7 linked regions of the Homo sapiens genome follow. The protein of the gene in region 1 interacts with the protein of each later gene in a pairwise test. Each region holds a gene or a part of one and is shown in the gene's direction. Other genes may lie near its edges.

Region 1 (3,500 bases):
GGCCTCCCAAAGTGCTGGGATTACAGGCATGAGCCACCACGCCCGGCCTGTATTTTTAGTAGAGACGGAGTTTCACCATGTTGGCAAGGCTGGTCTCGAACTCCTGACCTCAAGCAATCTGCCCACCTCCGCCTCCCAAAGTGCTGAGATTACAGGTGTGCGCCACCGTGGCTGGCCTATATTCATTTTTCAAAAATTTTCTAGAGTTTTACATTTTCATTGCTTTGTACTTTTACTTTGTCTTATTTTACTTTTTCACCATGTGTTTTTCAAAGCTGAAGGTATATTTGATGTGATTATTATAAATCACTTGTCAGGAAGACTTGACTTAATGAATACAGATACAGTTCATTTTTAAAATCATGGTTTAATAATTTTTAGAATTTACCTTTATAATATAGAAAAATACCAAATGTTCTTTATCTGCACTAGAAAATTAAATGATTATTTCATTAATAAGTAAAATTGAAGGGAACTTTTGAAATCACTGAGCAGTTAACAAATTCTCTATAAATACTGTGATGTTAGGAAGACAACAAGGCTAAATATGACATTTAAAGATTTAAGGAAACTTTATGTCTGGCTGATCCTCACCTTAAACTCTAATGAAGATAGAATTTATAGTCTTCCCTTCAAAACTGATTCCATATGCTGACTTTGTTTTGGTGACATTACCATGCTTTCAATTACCCAGACACAAACTTTGGTTTTATCTCTATGCGTGTAACAATATTGGCTGATTTTTGCCAGCCATTTTTATCTTTGAACTACTCACTAGCCTTTAATTGGGTTTTTTGCTTGATTTTTCTCTCTACTTAGTATGTCTTCCTAAATCTTAGAATTATGCTTCAAACACATCCTTCACTTTTCGGAAACCAGTGATAACTCTCTGTTATCTTCAGAGTATAGTTCAGAATTCATAGCCTAATAACAGTCTGCTCAAACCTGTTTTTCTGGGGCCAGCACTATTTCTTTCTTTTTTTTTAATCAGTGCCAGCACTATTTCTTTATAGGAGCTGTCCACTCTAACCAAACCAATCTCTGATTCTTATTTACTCTTTGTATTTTTGTACCTTCGTATCATTCCTTTTTCTTTCTTTCTTTCTTTTTTTTTTTTTGAGACAGAGTCTCGCTCTGTTGCCCAGGCTGGAGTGCAATGGTGCGATCTCGGCTCCCCGTAACCTCTGCCTCCCGGGTTCAAGCGATTCTCCTACCTCAGCCTCCCTAGTAGCTGGGACTACAGGCATGCGCCACCATGCCTGGCTAATTTTGTATTTTTAGTAGAGACGGGGTTTCTCCGTGTTGGTCAGGCCAGTCTTAAACTCCTCACTTCAGGTGATCTACACATCTCAGCCTGCCAAAGTGCTGGGATTACAGGTGTGAGCCACTGTGCCTGGCCTCTTTCTTTCTTCTTTTTTTTTTTCTTTGAGGCGTCTCACTCTGTCACCCAGGCTGGAGTGCAGTGGCACCATCTTGGCTCACTGCAACCTCCGTCTCCTTGGTTCAAGTGATTCTCCTGTGTCAGTCTTCCGAGTAGCTAGGATTACAGGTGCATGCCACCACGCCTGGCTAATTTTGTATTTTTAGTAGAGATGGGGTTTCACCATGTTGGCCAGGCTGGTCTTGAACTCCCGACCTCAGGTGATCCACATGCGTCGGCTTCCCAAAGTGTTGGGATTACAGGCGTGAGCCACTGTGCCCGTCCAGTTTGCCTAGTCTTTAAAATTTTTTTTTTCTCCTAAATTACCAAGTAGCAAATGAAGTAAAATTTGTTGAATTTTCGCTTTTGGTCCTTTGGTGCAGTCTTCCAAATGTTTTTCCTGTTCCCTATGTTGCTTGCTTTTCTTTCTTTCTTTCTTTCTTTCTTTCTTTCTTTCTTTCTTTCTTTCTTTCTTTCTTTCTTTCTTTCTTTGTTTCTTTCTTTCCTTCCTTCCTTCCTTCCTTCCTTCCTTCCTTCCTTCCTTCCTTCCTTCTTTCTTTCTTTTCTTTCTTTTCCCTTCCTTCCTTCCTTCCTTCCGTCCATCCATCCGTCTGTCCGTCCGTCTGTCTCTCTCTCTCTTTCTTTCTTTCTTCTTTCTTTTTTGACAGGATCTCGCTCTGTTGCTCAGGCTGGAGTACAGTGGCCTGATCACAGCTCCTCATTGTAACTTGAACCTCCCAAAGGCCAGGATTACAGGTGTGCATCAATGTCTGGCTAATTTTTTTTTTTTTTTTTTTTTGTAGAGATAGGGTCTCACTGTGTTGTTCAGACTGGTTTTGAATTCCTGGCCTCAAACGATCCTCCCACCTTGGCTTCTCAACGTGCTGGGATTATAGGGGTGAGCCACTGTGCCTGGTCTGTTGCTTTCCTTTAAACCCATACCCCTTATTATTTTAGTATTCCCTTGGTTTTTAATGTTGTGTGGACTTGAATCATAGAATTATAGAGCATTATTGCTGGAATGTTGGAATCCAACCTTGTGTTTTACAGATAAGGAAACTGAAATACAAATAGACTAGATGCACCAAAATTCAAACATTTAGTGATGGGGGCAGAACAAAGACTCAACCCTTGATCTTCTGACGCAAGTTCTGTGTGTTTATGAAACCATACTACTTCTCATCTCTTGTAATTTTGCCTTATTTGCCTCACATTATTTTGCATTTTGTGTATTTATGCCTTCTCATAGATTGAAAACTTCAGGGCAGGGGAACCTTCATATTTACATTGTAAATTTTTTTTTTTTTGAGACAGAGTTTCGCAGTTTTTGCCCTGGCTGGAGTGCAGCAGCATGATCTCGGCTCACTGCAACCTCCGCCTCTCGGGTTCAAGCAATTCTCTTGCCTCAGCCTCCTGAGGAGCTGGGATCACAGGCACCTGCCACCACACCTGGCTAATTTTGTATTTTTAGTAGAGATGGGTTTCACCATGTTGGCCAGGCTGGTCTCAAACTCCTGACCTCAGGTGATCCGCTCACCTTGGCTTCCCAAAGTTCTGGAATTACAGGCATGAGCCACCATGCCCAGCCTTACATTGTAAATTATTTAAACAATGATATAAAGTCTATATACAGTTTCTTTCCCCTATACTTGTTAGGTGTATTAACACCATTAACAAAAATAATATTGTCATGTTTACCATTGAGTTTTTTTTTTCTTGAGACGGAGTCCTGCTCTGTCACTCAGGATGGAGTGCAGTGGGGCAATCTCGGATCACTGTACCCTCTGCATCCCAGGTTCAAGGGATTCTCCTGCCTCAGCCTCCTAAGTAGCTGGAATTACAGGTGCCTGCCACCATGCCTGGCTAATTTTTGTATTTTTAGCAGAGACAGGGTTTCACCATGTTGGCCAGGCTGATCTCCAACTCCTAACTTCAGTTAATCAGCCTGCTTTGGCCTCCCAAAGTGCTGGGATTACAGGGATGAGCCACCGCACCTGGCCAGTGTTTACCATTGAATTCTATCATCTGCTAAAAAATGAATCTCTTACAGGTTTTACTGCTGCAATTTAGTTTGTCTTTT
Region 2 (3,406 bases), on another chromosome or scaffold:
ACACTTCAAGGGAAAGTTCATTTTCTTAAATTTTAATGTATAAATTCAGTTTTATGATTCCAACTTTTAAAAAATATTTTCATGTTTAATCATTGGCAATATGACATCAATACATTTACGTAAGTTTATCATTTATATTATTAATTTTTGCTTATGAGCTTTCTCCTTATAATTTGTAACACATTTGCTTTGATTCAGAACTAAAATTAGATCTAAAGTGGACCAAAACCAATAGATTGACTCACTGAGAGAAATTATTTAGAGATTGTATTGAGGAAGCAATAAATGGTACTAATCTCAAGCATACAACAGATTTTAGGCACTAACACAAAACTAACAATTCCAAAGATTAGTAATATTAATTAGATATCAGCAGGCATTTTCTTAAGAAAAATAGTTCCTATTTTTCCTGAGAAACATTTGCACAATGAGAGGCAAATATAAGGTGCCCCTCACACAACAACAACAACAAAACTTAGCTTTCTTGCATAAAATATGGCTTATTTTCTACTTAACCAGGCATCATAGAATCCATAGTATGTGCTCTTCCAATAATGCTTTTGCTCCATGAGTGATGAAATGCAAATGTTGATACTGTCCAATAGCAAAACAGTAGAGGAATTTCTTCCATACAGAGTAAAAGAGACCTGTTTGAGACTATTTACAATGCATAGTCCCCCTAGTAGTCAATAGCTGGCTGGGATCTGAAAGGGGAGTTGAATACAGTTCTCTCTCTGCTCAATATAATAAAATTTTAGAAAGTAAGTCTTAGATCTGGTGGTATTTAAAATACTTACCAATAAATGACTTTTATAATCTATGCTTACTAAATTCTTCCTAAAACTGGATCATGGGGGTAACACACTGAACTCTGTGCTACAGCCTACAGTAGCTTAATGAAAAAAGTTGCTTTTTTATTTAAAGGGGAAAGGAGGAAAGGTTGAAATTGGAGAAAAAAGAGACATACTGGAGAAAGAGAAAAGTTAGGGAGAAAAGGAGAAGAAAGGAAGGACACAAAAGTAGACACAAGTAAGAAAAATGGGTCATTTCCAGAGATAGATACAATTATTCAATATACTATGATTACTCTCTTGTGTTTTGATTTCCTGAAAAAAGTACTAAAGATTTTTCAACCTGTATTATTGATACAATTTATTTCCTTTTTCCTTCGTAGATGGTTATGTCCTTCGGAGTTACCTAGCGGACAAGTAAGCCCATTTTCTTCTACTACTATGCTTGTGAAAAGAATTTTGTGCCTTTCTTTTTAAAATATTTATAATATTACTTAAATAATGTAACCTACTCAACTATCATAAATAAATTTAAAAACAATATGCTATACTAACGTTAACATGTTAGTATCCATAATAAAGTTTAGGTTTCCATGAAGTGCTACTCTTTTAAATAGGCGAGGAGCCCTTCTCATTTAAAATTGTACAGCTCATAGTTAATAGTTTTATATATTCATTAGGCTCTCAGCAAACACTGAAGACATGTCAAAGCCAGTAACCTTTTCATCAATATTTTGCATTTTACTTGCTAATGCAATTGATTGAGTGGAATTAATTTGGGACCAATTAGTGACTTCATAGTAGGTGCTAATATCACCTGTTAACAGTTCATAATTTAGCCCTTAATTAAGGGCTTTGCTTCACTCACACTAGGCATAGTAGAGTACTATGTTGCCTTTTATGGAAGCATGCCAGAAAAAAAGACAGTCATCAATGATTCTTCTATTCTTATGAATAAGACATTGTCACAGTCTGTCACAGTGTGGTACTAGTGTGCCTTTGGAGTCCCCTGAAACATAAGATTCTGTCCCAAGTAACCCAGTGCAAGAAACGAACTCCATTATCAGGTTAGGTCACGTGCCAATGCAAAGATTTACAGAATTTAGCACAATGAAAAGATCCAGAAGGAGTCACAAACTGTGTACCCATCAACAACCTGACACCAATCAGAAAAACACAAATCAGTGTGAAGAGCTTTGCTGGCAAACTAGTAAAGGCCAAAGAAAAATAATCATAATACCTTTGTTCTCCTGAGCACATTAATCACAGTGGGAGGCAAGAGACTTTCAATAGGTTTTGTTCTATGAAAGATACAAATTTTAAGGACAGAATGTGTGGCAAATAATAGGACAACATCTCCATCAGTGATTATTACAGGCTGATTGAGAGAATTTAGAAAGCATACTCTGTAAGTAATTGTTGGTTCACCACCTATTGAAGCGAATACTTAATAAATGTTTATTGTATAAATGACAGAAAAACCTGTCCTGCTCGCATTTGGATGAGATTTCCGTTAGCCAAACCCTCCCTCCATCTCAGAGAAAAGATCCAAACAGAAGACATAGGGAACTCACAGCATCTGCCATAGTTGGCAGCAGTTTGAAGGGCCTGCTGCTGCTTCCATGATAAAGCACAGAGATTGTACAGCAAAGAGTAGTTCTGGTCTAAGTGACAAAGCCACCCTACATTTCTGAATTTTAGAAGTATATCTTACATTTCAAGGCAATGTTCATGTTTATAATGCTCTCTATTTTTATTTCTTATATAATCTCCTGTTTGATTATAAGGTACTTAAAAGCAAAGCTTGTCTCTTACTCAAATTTTTGTCTCCTGGTACATAGAAGGGATTCAGTATGTTTGTCGGATAGAAAATATCACAAAGATTCAGGGCCAGGCAAAACCTAAAATGTGTAAAAGTACCAAAATTACTATTATGGATGCTGCCTATAATCATAAGTAATAGTTTTAAAATTACATAAGAATCACCATAATAATCATATCTTGGCTACTTATTCTGTAACTAATATTTATATATTTTATTATATGTATGAGTTATAATTAGAAAACATGTGAAAATGATGCAACCATTTCCTATGCCAATTATTATTGTATTTAATTCACCATTCGAAATTCAAGTGAAAGTATGAATCTGATATTAACAGACATAAAAGTCCATTGCAGCTTTGAATTAACATCCCCAATGGGAGTATTGTACCATGATGTTTAGTACATTGTTAACAAACATGTCTTATAAAGATGAGTAAGGCATAGTCTATGCTCTTGAAGCATGTTTTAATTATTCTGTATGTAAAATGAAACAGAGGACTAGATTAAGTCAATGAAAGAAGAGATAATGAATATCAAATTTATTTCTACTTATAAATGCATACTATGCTTAAAAGTCTTAATTGTGTCTTATAAAATTATACTGTTACTCTATTCTTCTATATATTGCTCTAATGCCAAGAACATAGTTTCTTTAAAATAAAAATTTTTTTTTACATTTACAGTGATGGAGAGATCTATGATGATATTGCTGATGGTAAGTCTTATGTAGTACCACCCTAGAGAACAGTCATAGTGAATTTACTGTTTTTATAAATGCTAAAAATAGC
Region 3 (3,500 bases), on another chromosome or scaffold:
ATTTATGATCCACCCTCCTCAGCCTCCCAAAGTGCTGGGATTACAGGCGTGAGCCACCACGCCCGGCCTTTTTGTTTTTTTTGAGACAGGGTCTCACTCTGTCACCCAGGCTGGAGTGCAGTGAGTGGTGTGATCTCTGCTCACTGCAGCCTCCACCTCCTGGGTTCAAGTGATTCTCCTGTCTCAGCTTCCCAAGTAGCTGGGATTACAGGGTATGCCACCATGCCTGGCTAATTTTTGCATTTTTAGTACAGACCAGGTTTCACCATGTTGGCCAGTCTGGTCTCGAACTCCTGACATCAAGTGATCCACCCGCCTCGGCCTCCCAAAGTGTTGGGGTTACAGGCGTGAGCCACTGCACCTGGCCTAATTTTTATATTTTTAGTAGAGATGGGGTTTCACCATGTTGGCCAGGCTGGTCTTGGACTCCTGACCTCAAGTGACCCATCTGCCTCACCTCCCAAAGTGCTGGGATCACAGGCGTGAGCTACCACACCCAGCCTGATATATGGAGTTTTGATAGTGGTGCCAGTCACCTTTTTGATCACTTTTTCCCCTTAAATTTCCAAATTCTGCTTTTAACTTTGTTGTTTGTTACCCTTTCCTCATGGCAGGGAAGAGGAGGAAGATGCAGAAATAAAGGAAGTAGACTTCAGTCAGAGAGAGGGAAAGAAACAGCATGATATAAGAGTTTATCAAATACCAGCTGTTTTGTGGTTTGGTAAGGAGGAAATAACTGGAAAAAAAAAAAAAAAAAAACACCCAAAACCAAGAGAGGACATTTTTTTGAAACAAGAGTCTTTGTTGCATTAACATCTTAGACAGTCTTTTAAAAAATGTAGACCTAAGGGCGGGGCATGGTGGCTCACACCTGTAATCGCAACACTTTGGAAGGTCAGGCTGGAGTTTGAGACCAGCCTGGGCAATATAATGAGACCTCATTTCTACAAAAAATTTAAAAATTAGCCAGGTATGGTGGCACGCGCCTGTAGTCCTAGCTACTTGGGAGGCTGAGGTGGGATTGCTTGAGCCTGTGAGGTGGAGATTTCAGTGAGCTGAGATTGCGCCACTGCATTCTAGCCTGGGTGACAGAACAAAACTCTGTCTCCTCTCCTCGCAACCTGCCCCCCTCCCCCCGCCAAAAAAAAGTAGGCCTAACAAAGGATGGAAATCTTTTTACTTGTCTTAGTAACTTAATTTTTTTTGTTTTAATGAGACATTTTGAGATTTACCTGTTTGTGTCATTTTTAAAAATCTACTACAGTATTAAGTTACAGAATTTTCAGAAAGTTATCATTCAGATGTGATTTCATGTCTTTTGTTTTTGTTTGTTTTAGACAAAAGAAGTTAGAAAAGGTGATGGAAGAAGAAGGCCTAAAAGATGAGGAGGTAATTAATATTGGCAATGTTTTCCTTAAAACCCAGCGTGGCAGGTTGTATCTTGTCCAGTGAGTTGTTAGCCTTGGTACACATGAGAAGGGTTTTGGCTCAATAACAGAGGAACTTGAGGGGTAGTGTGCTTCCGGATTTGGGTGTTAATTCAGAGGGACAGATTAATTATTAAGTACCTAGGAGAGGAAGGCTTCTCTAGATGCAGTTATAGTAAACTAGATTTAGAATTCCAAGAGAAAGCAGGGATGAAATCAAATTAAATTTTAAAAGAGCAAGTTGTAGCATTTTTATAGAATTCACTGAAAAGTCTCCGTAGGAGTAGGGCAAATTTTTGAAATATTTATTTATTTTACTTTTTCTGGGATACATACGTGTGCTGAACATGCAGGTTTATTACATAGGTATATATGTGCCATAGTGGTTTGCTGCACCTATCAACCTGTCATCTAGGTTTTAAGCTCCGCATGCATGAGGTATTTGTCCTAATGCTCTCCCTCCCTTTCCCCCCATGCCCCGACAGGCCCCGGTGTGTCATGTTCCTGAAATCTTTATTAAGGCAAAATATCCATCTCAAATCAGCCCTTCCACCCAGTGCCCACAGATACAGTAGGAGAAAATATAGTTAACAAGGGACTGTGCAAGGAACTGAAATGGTAGTGGAAATGCCTTCAAAAATAGGACTGGCTTGCAGAACCCAGGACGGTGGTGAAAAATACCCAATACTTGTAGAAATAACAGAAAGTTAGAGTATACAGTGTTTAAGCCAGAGGGAAAGATAAGAACACATTTTTAATTTATATTAAACAGGATAAAGGAAAATATTGTTGATTATTTATCCCTCCCTTCACCAAAAATGTTAGGATAGTGGATTGCTGAAGTAGGTTAGTCAGAGTTCCCAGAGGAGGCACCCATCTGTTCAGTGTGGCTTGGATGTTGTGTCTAAATGCCAGGAAAGGGAGAAGTGACCTCTTAAGGATCCTTCTGGGGTGATTTCATATGTGAAAAGATTATCCTTAGTCCACTTGGACCTGTTTTCTAGCTGGGTAAGTCACAAACATGACTTGTTACAGAGTTTCAGAATTTCAGTTCCTTCCCGTCTCCTCCCTTTTTTATTTAAATATTAGAAACGACTCCGGAGATCAGCACATGCTCGGAAGGAAACAGAGTTTCTTCGTTTGAAGAGAACAAGACTTGGATTGGAAGATTTTGAGTCCTTAAAAGTAATAGGCAGAGGAGCATTTGGTGAGGTAAAAATCACAGCTACTTGTCAAGTAGAAAAATATTGCAAAACTTCAAAGCTTCTAACATACCATTAAGTCATGATTGTTGATATAACAAATATATGGAATTAAATGAGTCAGGCATGCCAGCCCCACATCCTAATTGCTTTGTCTGTCTGCTTTCTCTTTTTCTTCTCTCCGCAGTCCCAGATCTCTGTTCTCTGTTTTGCCAGAGATGGTGTTGGTGTTTAAATATTGACTTAGGGGGAGAGTTGAAAGGTAGAAGGAAATCAACATTTATTATTTACAGGCTGCTTTTTTCCCATAATCAGGACAGTAACCCATTTTATAGATGGTGAAATTAAGACTCTAAAGGTATATATAATGTCTCTTGTTATCACACAGCCATTGAGTACTGGGACCAAAAGTTGGGCTCTACTTCCTGAACTCAAAGAGCTTGCTTTTCCCAGTACTGCACTGCCTCTCGAGAAGGAAACTAATAGTGTATCTCCACCCTTTATTTCTCCCCACCAGATTGATACAGCTCTAAAAAGATGACCCTAGGAGGGAGGATTTACAGAAAGGAGTTATATAGGTAGTGGTGGAGAGTTGAAAGCATTTGCGACTTTGTCCCCGCAATTCTTGGAAATGATCCTGCTTGGGCACAAGAGCAATCTGTTGGGGAGAGCTTGAAAGAGCCCATGCAAGGTCATTCCTGTTAATGAAAAATGCCCAAACTGGATGACCTACTGACGCAATAATTGCAAGTATAAAAGGAGCAGTATATTATTAAAACCTGGTACCCCGGGGCCAGGCACGGTGGCTCACTCCTGTAATCTCAGCACTTTGGGAGGCCAAGGCGGGCGGATCACAAGGTCAGGAGTTCGA
Region 4 (3,500 bases), on another chromosome or scaffold:
CAGTTTCCTCAGGTAATCCTAAAAGTTCCAGAACTCTAGTTTAGTGAGACAAAGGAGTCAGGGGTTGAGAATCCATGCTTACGGAGAGCCTATTCCATACATACATTGTCTTAACATTTCTCATAAAACCATACAAGGAATGGATTACCTTCATCTTGCAGGTGAGGAAACTGAAGCTCAGAGAGGATAATTACTCAGCCAAAGTTACACAGCTACTTGGTGATCCTTACCATTGATCATGAATCACGATATCTGGGTTTTAAGCCAGGTTCCATTGCTGACTATTCCTGTTTCCCTGGGCAAGTCAATGCAATACAACAAACCATTATTATTAAGTTAAATGAAAGCCACTGTGGGAAATAAAAAGATTGTATCCAGTAGAAGGGACAAGCCTAGAGAAAATTAACTGCAATGAAGTGAACCCTGTGCAAAGTGCTACAAAGCCACTTTGCTTTTCAAACAGGACTTAGGTTGCTCGTCTGTAAAGTGAATGGATGAGCTATGTAGAAGTTGGCAAACTTTTTCGGTAAAGGGCCAGACAGTAAATATTTTAGGATTTGCAAACCATATAGTCTCTGTCAAAGCTACTGAACTCTGTCCTTGTAGTGTGAAAGCAGCTACAGATAATAAATAAACTAATTGGAATGGCCACGTGGTATTTTAGTAAGAGCAACATACTTGCAGGTATTCTTCTTCCTGAGCAACTTGGAAACATACAATCAGCGGAGAACAATCCATTTTATTACTGGATATTCACCCACCTGATAGCTGTTGAGTTTCTGAGCTGGAGCATCTTTCACTTTACCGTTTATTCTGCCCTGAGTATCTAGAATCAGGATAATGGTGTTTTAGGAGTGATTCTAATCAGAATTTACTTAAGAATATTTCCAGAAAAAAATAAAGGACTTAGTATTTGACATAGACATATAGTAAGTATTTTAGAGTCTCACTTTTGATACTGGCTGAAAAAAATTCAAAGCTAAAAATATTTTGGACAACATCGTCAGATTGACATATATTGGTTTGAGGATGCCTTTTATGACCCCAGTAAGGAAATGGTAAATGTTTGCATAGTTATCAACACAGTCTAACTCTGAACACAGGCTGTCTCTCTGAAACTTAGTTTTCAAGTATACTTGGTTTTGAAGCTCTCAGTGTATTTGTTCTGGCCAAAAATGATAAATCTCTGACCTGCCTTGACCATGCATAGTCACAGAAAGCCAACAGACAGCAAAGCAGAGGCGCTAGGCTGGCTGAAAAGCATTATTGGTATTTGAAGGACAGCAGGGGCCCTTCTTTATACTTGACTAGATTAGCCAGGAAGCACCAGCCATCTACATGAGGTGTATGATTAGCAAGACAGTCCTGTGGAAAGCCAATGGCAAAAAGGGATGCAAAGCAGAGAAAAGAGCCTAGTTGGGGCTCCTTTGGAAGCTCCGTACCCACACTCTTCCCTCGAGAATACTCCTGGGGAAAAGTCTGCTATTCTCTCCTAAATGCACTGGGGGCTATTTTCATCCTGGAAGGACTTTTTTATTTATTTTTGAGATGAGGTATTGCCCTGTCACCCAGGCTGGAGTGCAGTGGCTCAAGCACGACTCACTACAGCCTTGACCTCCCAGACTCAGGCAGTCTCCCTCCTCAGCCTCCTGAGTAGTTGGGACTACATGTGCATGCCACCACACCCAGCTAATTTAAAAAACTTTTTGTAGAGAAGGTGGGGAGGGGGAGGATATGGAGGTGTGTCTCACTATGTTACTCAGGCTGGTCTCAAACTCCTGGCTTCAAGCAATCCTCTCACCTTGACCTCCCAAAGTGCTGGGATTACAGGTGTGAGCCACCACCACGCCTGGTCCCTGGCAGGATTTTAAAAATTAAACCAATCAACAAGACCTCAAGCAGACAAACCTGCTGCCTGTTTAGGGGCTGGTCCTCCCTTTTCTTATCAGGGTTGGCATTTATCCTAAGGGCTTCTATCAGTGACCTATAGAGCCAGCTACCTGCTTTGGAGGCAAGGGGCTGTGTGCAGGAAGCAGCCGCCGAGAACCCCCCCTGCCTCTGTGGGTCCTGCCTACACTAGACTCCAGGGAACTCACTGTGCTGCCAAAGGGCCCACTGTAGCCTGGGCTGAGGGGTTCCCTTCTTCGACTCTTTGAATAATAATCAGTTTCCCTCTAATTGTCAGGAAAAGATGGTAAGAGTTGAATGCTCAATTTTAGGGTTTCTCTTCATAAAATTTTCTTAATCTTTTGGCCAGGTGCGGTGGCTCACGCCTGTAATCCCAGCACTTTGGGAGGCCGAGGTGGGTGGATCACTTGAGGTCAGGAGTTCAAGATCAGCCTGGCCAACATGGTGAATCCTCATCTCTACTAAAAATACAAAAATTTGCCAGGCGTGGTGGCACGCATCTGTAATTGCAGTTTCTCGGGAGGCTGAGGCAGGAGAATTGCTGGAACCCAGCAGGCGGAGGTTGCAGTGAGCTGACATCATGCCACTGCACTCCGGCCTGGGCAACAGAGCAAGACTCTGTCTCAAAACAAAACTAAAACCTAACCACAATATTAAAAAAAAAAAGCTTTCAATGTTCACCTGCTAGTGGGTGCCAGCAGATGACAAAATGAATGCATGAGAAATAAACAAATATTAACAGAAAAACTCAAACATCTGATCACATCTAGTTTAACAGTTTGTTGTTTTCATGGATATGTGTAAGCTTGTAGTTGAGATTTTACATGCATTCATACAACCCAGTAATATTTTCTCCTAGTGCATATGATGGGATTCAATATGAAATTAGATATTCATGGTGTTCTACAAAGAACAGCATAATTTCTAGATGCTCTGCCACCTGAATTAATTGGAAATATGCAACCAACAGAATTTTTTTTAGTGTGGGGGAGTGGACATATGGATGAAAAACAAGTAAAATAAACTAAGATGTTAATTTCAGCATATGACAAGTACTATAAAGGAAATAAACAGGGCATGTGATAGAGAGTGATTGTAAATAATAGTGGGCCCCCTTTAGTGAGGGAGAGTGTAGGAGGTCTCTTGGAGGAGAATTTCAAGTAGAGATCTGCAGAATGAGAAGGGAAACCACCCCATAGCCAGTGACAAGAATTCCTGGAAGAGGGAACAGCATTTGCAAAAGCTCAGAGCTGGAAAAGAGAGCTTGGCACATTAGAGGAAAGAATAAAGGCCAGTGTGGTTAGTGAGTAATAGGGAGAGGGGTACAGAATACCACTGGAGAAGAGGGTGGGAGCTATTAGTTTGGTGCAAAAGTAATTGTGGTTTTTGTCATTAGTTTCGCTTTTAATGGCAAAAACCGCGATTACTTTTGTACCAGCCTAATACTCCATGCAGGGCCCTGTGCATCAGATACAGAGTTTGGATTTTATTTTATTTTTATTTTTGAGACAGAGTCTCGCTCTGTTGCTAGGCTGGAGTGCAGTGGCGCGATCTCAGCTCACTGCAACCTCCGCGTCCCAGGTTCAAGTGAT
Region 5 (2,232 bases), about 87 Mb from region 1:
ATTTGGCCTTGAGTGGAAGCCACAGGATTGGGACATGGTCCAGTCATCCCCAGTCATCCCTGTCTCTGCCACCCTACTGGCTGTGGCTGTCCAGCTGTTAACAGACCTGCACTTGGGGTGGGATCACTGAGGTGCCTTGCCCAGAATGCAGGCATGGCAGCAGCAGTGCCACATGGTAACTCCCCAAGGGGCGTGTGCTGAGCCTGGTTCACCTGCCCCCATGTCTTGCTTACCTACCCCTTGCCTTCTCTCTCATTCTTGTAGCTCCCCAATTCAGGATGTCCCCAAGAAGATATGCAAAGGCCCCAGGAAGGTAAGAGCTTTCTAGAAGAAGCACAGTCTAACCTTTGGCAGGACTGGACTTTTGGGAGGGCACGGTCTTGCCAGAGCCTTGTCACTCCTGGTCCAGGACTGAGGTACTTCGGAGCCACCCTTGGGATTCTACTCATTATCCCTCCTGCCTCCTAGTGAGGCATCAGAGATCCTGATCTTGTTCCACCACCACTACCCTCCCTCCTTTGCTGACATCCAGCTCATCAAGTCTGGCCCTGGGGTCTTCCCTGCAGGAGTCCCAGCTCTCACTGGGTGGCCAGAGCTGTGCAGGAGAGCCAGATGAGGAACTGGTTGGTGCCTTCCCTATTTTTGTCCGGAATGCCATCCTAGGCCAGAAACAGCCCAAGAGGCCCAGGTCAGAGTCCTCTTGCAGCAAAGATGTGGTGAGTGTGGCTTCCCACAGTGGCAGGAGCCAGCCCTCTTGGGTAGAAATGGGTGGCCAGCCCCCCAGCCCATTAGCCTGGCCCACTCATCTCTTCCTTCCACCCTAGGTAAGGACAGGCTTCGATGGGCTCGGTGGCCGGACAAAATTCATCCAGCCTGTATCCTTTTCCTGTGATGTTGAGCTGAGCTGAACTGTGGAGCCCATACTATGCCTCACCTATACCCCCAGCCTGCCAGTGCCAACAGCCTCAGGTGTGCAGTGCTGGGCCTCATTCTGTGTATCAGCGCCGCCCACCCCCGGCTCTGAGCCTTTCTTGCCCTGCATTGCAGTCCTTTCTCGCCCTGCATTGCAGTCCTTTCTCCATGCCTCTTCCTTGACAGCTCCTCCAGACTGACACAGTCATGATCCGCCCATTGCCTGTTAAGCCCAAGACCAAGGTTAAGCAGAGGGTGAGGGTGAAGACAGTGCCTTCTCTCTTCCAGGCCAAGCTGGACACCTTCCTGTGGTCGTGAGAACAGTGAGTCTGACCAATGGCCAGACACATGCCTGCAACTTGTAGGTCAAGGACTGTCCAGGCAGGGGTTTTGTGGACAGAGCCCCACTTTCGGGACCAGCCTGAGGTGTAAGGGCAGACAAACAGGTGAGGGTGAGTGTGGCACCCAGAGACTGCTCTTCCTGCCCTCACCCTGCCCCACTCCTACGACTGGGAGCTGACATGACCAGCCCACTGATCCTGTCAGCAGGTCCTGCTCCTGTTGCCAGGCTCCTGTTTATAGCCATGATCAGATGTGGTCAGACTCTTTCTGGGCCTGGAGACCACGGTCACTTGTTGACTGTCTCTGTGGACCAGAGTGCTTGAGGCATCTCAGGCAGCCTCAGCCCAAGCTTCTACCTGCCTTTGACTTGCTTCTAGGCATAGCCTGGGCCAAGCAGGGTGGGGAATGGAGGATAGCATGGGATGTATGGAGAGGATGGAAGATTTTCATGTAAAATAAAATTAAAAAAAAAAAACAATCTCTTCTTCCTGGTTCTGAGAGTGTAAATTTGCACCAACACTTTAGAAAACTGTTTGGCATGACTTTCTAAAGCAGGAACATCGCCAAGCCTCAGATCCAGCAGTTCCTTCCCTAGGCATATGCCTTCTCATGGGGCACAGGAAGACTCTAGAAAGAATGAGATCACTGCAGCTTTTCTCACAGTCTCTAACCTGGGCACAGCCTAAAGGCCATAAGTAGGAAAGTGAACGAGTAAATGGAAATCTATCTATACAGTGTACTCACAGCAAATAACCAGCGACCACTACCTTCCGTTCCTACCCACGTTTAAACGCTACCAGCCAAATTGCTAGCTTTTGACTTTTGGCTGCAAAGGCACTTTCTTTCTTTTCTTTCTTTTTCTTTCTTTCTTTTTTTTTTTTTTCTTTTTGCAACAGGGTCTCCCTCTGTCTCCCAGGCTGGAGTGCAGTGGCACAATCACAGTTCACTGCAGCCTCAACCTCCCAGGCTCAGGTGATC
Region 6 (2,388 bases), on another chromosome or scaffold:
TGGTCTAGACGCCATTCTTTCCTGCTGCATTTTTTTTAATGCCAAAGAGATGACTGTCTTTTGTTTTTGCAGTGGCATTGAAAATATCCGCCCATTTCATAGTTTGCTGCTGATAAGAGGAATGACCTCTTTCATCCTGTGTCAACTTTTCATGGCACAGTTTCTGCCCCTGTGATTGGAATTGCTTCCTGGGCCACCACAGTTATCCCGAGGCCCCTAGTCAGAGTCACCTTGGAACTGACTTAATTAACTCTCGAGTGTAGGAAATATCAATGGCCTCCCTCTCCCGTGACCCTGTATATTGTATATTGCTTGTGTGTTCGTGTGTGGTGTGCAAAAGGGTCTAACCTGGTGTAGCACCAACAAAGCTAAAGAACACAATCTGATATCTCTTCTTCCTCCTCTGTTTATTTAGGTTTGGTGGGAAGGGGACGGTGGGCGGGCCGGGGACAGAGCGGAGATGTTTTTAAGCTCTGAACCAAGCTTGCACCCGGTGACTTGCATCCTTAGAGGGGATGCAGGGGTTCTAAGATGCTGCTGCAGCCGCTGCTTCCTGGCCCATCTCTGGCACCAGGAGGAGTCTGGAGTCTCCAGAGAGAACCGCACTCAATGTGCTGGGAGCCGCAGGCTTTCCGCAGGGGGCCTTTAAAATACCCACTTCCTTCCCTTGGAGAGACCTAGTTCTGCAACCCAGCCTTACCCTGGGCCTTAAGCTTACCGGGATTTTTTTTTTTCTGCATCTTTTGAATGCCCAAGCCAGAATAATGAAGAAAAAAGTAGATATGCAGTGTGCAGATCAGAACTAACCACCCCTAGGTAAAAAACTGTGTGTTCTAACTACTGACCTATCCCAGTTTTTCCCAAGCTTGTCCTGAGAAGCTGTGTAATGTCCTGAACCTTCTGCTTTGATCAGGAGAGAAGGGCCCCTCCTCCAGTGCCAAAGAAGCCGGCGAAGGGCCCCGCGCCGCTGATCCGGGAGCGCTCGCTGGAGAGCTCGCAGCGCCAGGAGGCCCGCAAGCGCCTGATGGCCGCCAAGCGCGCCGCGTCCGTCCGCCAGAACTCGGCCACCGAGAGCGCCGAGAGCATCGAGATCTACATCCCCGAGGCGCAGACCCGGCTCTGAGCGCCCCGCAGCCCGGCCGCCGCCGCCAAGCATCTGTCCCCTCCTCCCCCGGCCGCTCCTCTGCCGGCTGCCTCTCCCCCTCCGAGCCCGTCCGCTCCCGAGCTCGGTGACTTCCACTGTCGCGGTGTAGTTGTCCACCTCGCAGGAGCCGCCCCCCGGGCCCCCCTCAGCCCCCCACTTCCCGTACCCGTTTGCCCATCTCCTTCTTCACCGAGCTTCGCCCCCTGTCCTGATGCCGTCGCCCTGCCTCATACTGAGATCCAACCCTTTATTTTCTGGGCAAAGCCAAACCCACCTGTGTAGAAGTGATGCCTTTAGGTCACCCGCCGTCCTCAGTTCTCTCGAGCTAGTCTGTTCAGCAATATAAAACCATAGGGTATTTCAGAAATCCAGTATCACAGGGTGATCCTTTGGGACTTACCGTCTTCCACGTGAAAGAAACTAGGCCTCCGATTCCCTTTATTTCCCCTAAATGGTTATTCTTTTAAAAAAGCAGATGGAGCACTTTATTCCCAACCTCAGAAATCACACCATCTCACTGGAATCCATGAGGGACACAGAGAGAGGGGACCAAGCCTGGCCTGGGGGTGGGGGACCTGGATGTGTAGCAAGGATGGGAGAAGCGAAATCTGCAGGTGCTGGGGGCACCTGCACACTCACAGCTGCACAAACTGCCTCACTGTTACTTCATCAATCACAGCTTCAAATGTCTCAATCAGCAGAAGATTGTAAATTCGATCTTTCAGGGAAATTAATCTATTCTGAAAGGCAATAACATGAAGCAAGGCAAAGGAGGCACTGATGGTTTAGTATACTACATAAGGGATTTTTTTGTTCTATTATTAAGAAAATCTAGACCTGAAATGTTTTCTCAACTCTTATTGTACTGTGTATATTTATATTGTTGTCGTGGCGGCTGTTTTTAAAGGGAAAGTGTTGGTTCTATTAATTTGTTAAGTGTCCATCCAGGTGGGCCTACCTGATTCCACATATATAAGTACATATCTGCTTATAAAGCGCTGTAAATGGCAGCAAGGCTGTTTTTGGAGAAGAGTTTGGGTTTTCCTACCATCCCTTTGAATGCTACACATCCGTCTATTTTAACCCAAGTAGTTCGTATTTCAGATATATTTTCTCCTTTCATCTCCTCTCACTACTGCAGAGTCCAGTAATACCTAGCATAGGATTCTGTCCTGTGTCAAATGGCTAAAATAAATTTTTGCCCCAATAGACATGCTGCCTCATTCAAAAGAGCTGCCGCTGTC
Region 7 (3,500 bases), on another chromosome or scaffold:
GAGTGGGTGTGGCTTGGGGGGAGGGGAGGGATGCTCGATGCCTCCCTTTCCCAGACCCTTATGTAGAATGAGGAATCAAGGCTGGGCAAAAGTAATGGGGTGGGGCTGGGGGCTGATAATGAGGCCAGAATCTCCCATCCGGCTGTGCTTTTGTCCAGCCGCTTTGTTGCTGCCTTTGTCTGGGCCCTGCTTGTGGGTTGGGAGGATGGATCCAGGTGTCTCTGACCTTGAAGCCTGCAGCCCTCCCGTGAGACTTGCCTCCCTGCCGGGGTACCCACACTTTACTGGGTACAGCCTCCCAGTCAAGATGTACTAGCCTTTCCTAGTGTGCCGGGGAGGATGGGACGTGGGCGGCCCAGAAGAGAGGAGAGTAGTACCACTGGAAGTTGGGAAGCCTGCTCAGTGAAATCCTGTTTAGAGGCCTGGGAATGGAGAAGTTTTGGAGGGAGGGGCCTGTTCCTCCTTCCTTCTCCTAGGAATTGGGCTTTCAGACCTGGATTAAGACATAGGGACAAGAGTTTATTGGACTTTTGAGGGTTGGGGGCCCCTACTCTGAGTGTGATCCGGGAGTCCCCTCTGGGAACCTGGAGTTGAGTCCAGGGTCAGTCTGACTCCTACTGCTGGGTGACCTTAGGCAAGGCCTTGCCCCTTTGAACCGTTTCCCCACTTGTAAAATCTGGGGATCTCGGGCACTGGTCTGGTTGGATCTGTTGGGGGCCTCCTAGCTCTGACCTGTGGGATTCCTGCAGACTCCCTAGGGCAGGAGCTCTGGCTGTTGACGAATGGGCTGAGGGAGGAGGAAAGGCAGGTTTCTGAACTGAAGACCCTGCTCCTGGAGCATGGCCCTTTAAAGGGCTTGTTTTGTTCCCGTCCCTTTATAAGGTGTTACCAAGGTCACATGACCCTTCCAGCGCTTTTGCTTATGTTGTGGGTTTCATTTAAAGGGGGGGCTGGGGCTGCAAAGTGCTGACACAGCCCCCCATCCCCAGGATTAGATGGCCAGCCCCTCCACAGGCGGGGCTTGTAACAGGATCCTTTGTAATGGATCCCTGGCTCCTCTGCAACAGGGGCCAGGGCCAGGGCCAGGGCCTCCAGGAGAGGGGGATACCTGGGACTATTTCCCCAAGAGAGACTGGAGCTCCCTTGGGCGGGTGGAGGGGCCTGGGTCTTTCTTCTCCCCTCCCCTGCCCATCCTTCCACTAAGGGGCAGCCACATGGGTGAGTAGGGGACCCAGGAGGCTATCTCCTTGGTCTGCATCCCCCCTAGGATTTTCTGGGAATATGGTTGTAACTCATGCCAGCTGTCTCTCCTTCCTGATTTCCCGTGATATCTTCTTCCTGGACCTGGTTCAAGTGGTGGCATGAAAAGAGTGGTTTGTTTTCCTGTGAAGTGGGGTTTTGGGTATGGAGGCGAGAGCAATGTATTTACTATGGGCTATGTGTATACTCGGGATGTTTTTTGTGGGGCTCTGAGTGACGTGTGAGTACATAGTCGTGTGTATACTTGGTTACTGTTTGTGTATATACAGAGCAGGGACTGTGGGTGTTGTGTGTTTACGTGCGGGCTGGGTGTGCTTGGTGTGTGTACCTATGTGTGTTTATACTCGGATGCCCTTTGTTTATATACATGAATGACATCTGTGAGTGCTGTGTACGTACACAGTAGACCTGTGTACCTGTGTGCCCTGTGTGTGGGGCCTTATATGGGGCCCTTTGTGTGGTGTGGGTACTCAGATTTATGTACACTTGGGTGTAGTTTGTGTATATGGGGGCTGTGTGTGTTGAGTGTTTACTCCAGAACTGTGGGTTATGTGTCCAGACTGGGGAAGGGGGCATTGCTTGTATATGCAATGGCCGTGTGCAGTCTGGGGACCATGACTGCCCTTGCCGTGAGACCTGTGCCCCTGCAGGGCCCAGATGCCTTTACCTCATTTCCCTTCCTCCTCCCTCCTACTAGGCTCTGCCAAGGCTGAGAATGACAAACATCTAAGTGTAGGGCCTGGCCAGGGGCCAGGGTCTGCAGTGGATGAGCACCAGGACAACGTCTTCTTTCCCAGTGGGCGACCCCCCCACCTGGAAGAGCTGCACACTCAGGCCCAGGAGGGGCTCCGCTCCCTACAACACCAAGGTAAGCTTCCTCTCCACTCCCCTCCCCTCTCCTCCCTCCAGTGCTGCACTGTCAGCTGTCAAGGTCAGGGGCCTAACCCAACAGACCCTTCTGGTGTCTTCCAGAGAAACAGAAACTGAACAAGGGTGGCTGGGACCATGGAGACACCCAGAGTATCCAGGTGAGCCCTGCCTCCAGCTCAGTCCTGACTCTTCTCTACCTGCTTGACCCCTGGCAAGGATGTCTTGGAACATTTCTGGGTCTCAGTTTCTTTATCACAAAGGGCTACACTAAATGAACCCTGAGGGCTAGTTCAGGGTTGCTCAGTGCTAGGTGATGCTGGAGGGGATCTGTGACTCAAAAGTTCGAGTGGGAGGCTGGGCGAGGTGGCTTACACCTGTAACCCCAGCACTTTGGGACGCTGAGGTGGGCGGATCACTTGAGGTCAGGATTTTGAGACCAGCCTGGCCAAAGTGGTGAAACCCTGTCTCTACTAGAAATACAAAAATTAGCCAGGCATGGTGGGAGGGTACCTATAATCCCAGCTGCTTGAGAGGCTGAGGCAGGATAATCGCTTGAACTTGGGAGGCGGAGGTTGTGGTGAGCCAAGATTTCGCTACTGCACTCCAGCCTGAGCTGGATTTGTCTCAAAAAAAAGTTCCAATGGGGAGCCTTGAGGAGACAGCCCCACCCAGATCTCCTTCTACCCTGATAGTCCTCCCGGACGGGGCCGGATGAAGACAACATCTCCTTCTGCAGTCAGACCACATCCTACGTGGCTGAGAGCTCCACAGCAGAGGACGCGCTCTCCATCCGCTCGGAGATGATCCAGCGCAAAGGTGGATTCATGGGCAGGGGAGAGGGACAGTGGGCTCCATTGGGTCCCAGCATCTGTAGCTTCTTTTCCTCCTTATCCAGTGTTTCACCAGGCTCTCTGATTCAATGAATTCGGGAAACACAGTACCCTGTGTCCTCTTGCACATTCGTGATACACACTAACTATAAAGCAGTTAAGAGTTAGAAAATCTTGGCGGCCGGGTGCGGTGGCTCACGCCTGTAATCCCAGCACTTTGGGAGGTCGAGGTGGGCGGGTCACGAGGTCAGGAGATCGAGACCATCCTGGCTAACACGGTGAATGAAACCCCGTCTCTACTAAAAATACAAAAAATTAGCCTTGCCTGATGGCGGGTGCCTGTAGTCCCAGCTACTTGGGAGGCTGAGGCAGGAGAATGGCGTGAACCCAGGAGGTGGAGCTTGCAGTGAGCCGAGATTGCACCACTGCACTCCAGCCTGGTCGACAGTGTGAGACTCCATCTCAAAAAAAAAATAAAAAAAGAGTTAGAAAATCTTAACTGTTGGAAGCCTGGTGTAACTAACTAGTGCCAGCTGTGTG

The links.
Region 2: the proteins of NCK1 (region 1) and FYB1 interact in binary tests that used the Homo sapiens proteins (3 or more experiments, as listed by UniProt).
Region 3: the proteins of NCK1 (region 1) and STK38 interact in binary tests that used the Homo sapiens proteins (3 or more experiments, as listed by UniProt).
Region 4: the proteins of NCK1 (region 1) and SLC24A1 interact in binary tests that used the Homo sapiens proteins (3 or more experiments, as listed by UniProt).
Region 5: the proteins of NCK1 (region 1) and TRAIP interact in binary tests that used the Homo sapiens proteins (3 or more experiments, as listed by UniProt).
Region 6: the proteins of NCK1 (region 1) and DLGAP1 interact in binary tests that used the Homo sapiens proteins (3 or more experiments, as listed by UniProt).
Region 7: the proteins of NCK1 (region 1) and NHSL3 interact in binary tests that used the Homo sapiens proteins (3 or more experiments, as listed by UniProt).

What each region holds. Positions count from the first base shown.
Region 1 is NC_000003.12:136,865,208-136,868,707, forward strand, and holds part of NCK1 (SH2/SH3 adapter protein NCK1), read left to right. Parts: intron 1-3,500. UniProt on the Homo sapiens protein: Adapter protein which associates with tyrosine-phosphorylated growth factor receptors, such as KDR and PDGFRB, or their cellular substrates. Maintains low levels of EIF2S1 phosphorylation by promoting its dephosphorylation by PP1.
Region 2 is NC_000005.10:39,108,158-39,111,563, reverse strand, and holds part of FYB1 (FYN-binding protein 1), read left to right. Parts: intron 1-1,174; coding exon 1,175-1,208; intron 1,209-3,301; coding exon 3,302-3,333; intron 3,334-3,406. UniProt on the Homo sapiens protein: Acts as an adapter protein of the FYN and LCP2 signaling cascades in T-cells. May play a role in linking T-cell signaling to remodeling of the actin cytoskeleton. Modulates the expression of IL2. Involved in platelet activation.
Region 3 is NC_000006.12:36,523,480-36,526,979, reverse strand, and holds part of STK38 (serine/threonine-protein kinase 38), read left to right. Parts: intron 1-1,337; coding exon 1,338-1,389; intron 1,390-2,516; coding exon 2,517-2,639; intron 2,640-3,500. UniProt on the Homo sapiens protein: Serine/threonine-protein kinase that acts as a negative regulator of MAP3K1/2 signaling. Converts MAP3K2 from its phosphorylated form to its non-phosphorylated form and inhibits autophosphorylation of MAP3K2.
Region 4 is NC_000015.10:65,628,438-65,631,937, forward strand, and holds part of SLC24A1 (sodium/potassium/calcium exchanger 1), read left to right. Parts: intron 1-3,500. UniProt on the Homo sapiens protein: Calcium, potassium:sodium antiporter that transports 1 Ca(2+) and 1 K(+) in exchange for 4 Na(+). Critical component of the visual transduction cascade, controlling the calcium concentration of outer segments during light and darkness.
Region 5 is NC_000003.12:49,828,101-49,830,332, reverse strand, and holds the end of TRAIP (E3 ubiquitin-protein ligase TRAIP), read left to right. Parts: intron 1-264; coding exon 265-313; intron 314-566; coding exon 567-716; intron 717-824; coding exon 825-875; intron 876-1,107; coding exon 1,108-1,230; 3' UTR 1,231-1,732; downstream 1,733-2,232. UniProt on the Homo sapiens protein: E3 ubiquitin ligase required to protect genome stability in response to replication stress.
Region 6 is NC_000018.10:3,497,920-3,500,307, reverse strand, and holds part of DLGAP1 (disks large-associated protein 1), read left to right. Parts: intron 1-913; coding exon 914-1,123; 3' UTR 1,124-2,388. UniProt on the Homo sapiens protein: Part of the postsynaptic scaffold in neuronal cells.
Region 7 is NC_000001.11:32,765,830-32,769,329, forward strand, and holds part of NHSL3 (NHS-like protein 3), read left to right. Parts: intron 1-1,957; coding exon 1,958-2,128; intron 2,129-2,232; coding exon 2,233-2,288; intron 2,289-2,822; coding exon 2,823-2,946; intron 2,947-3,500. UniProt on the Homo sapiens protein: Able to directly activate the TNF-NFkappaB signaling pathway.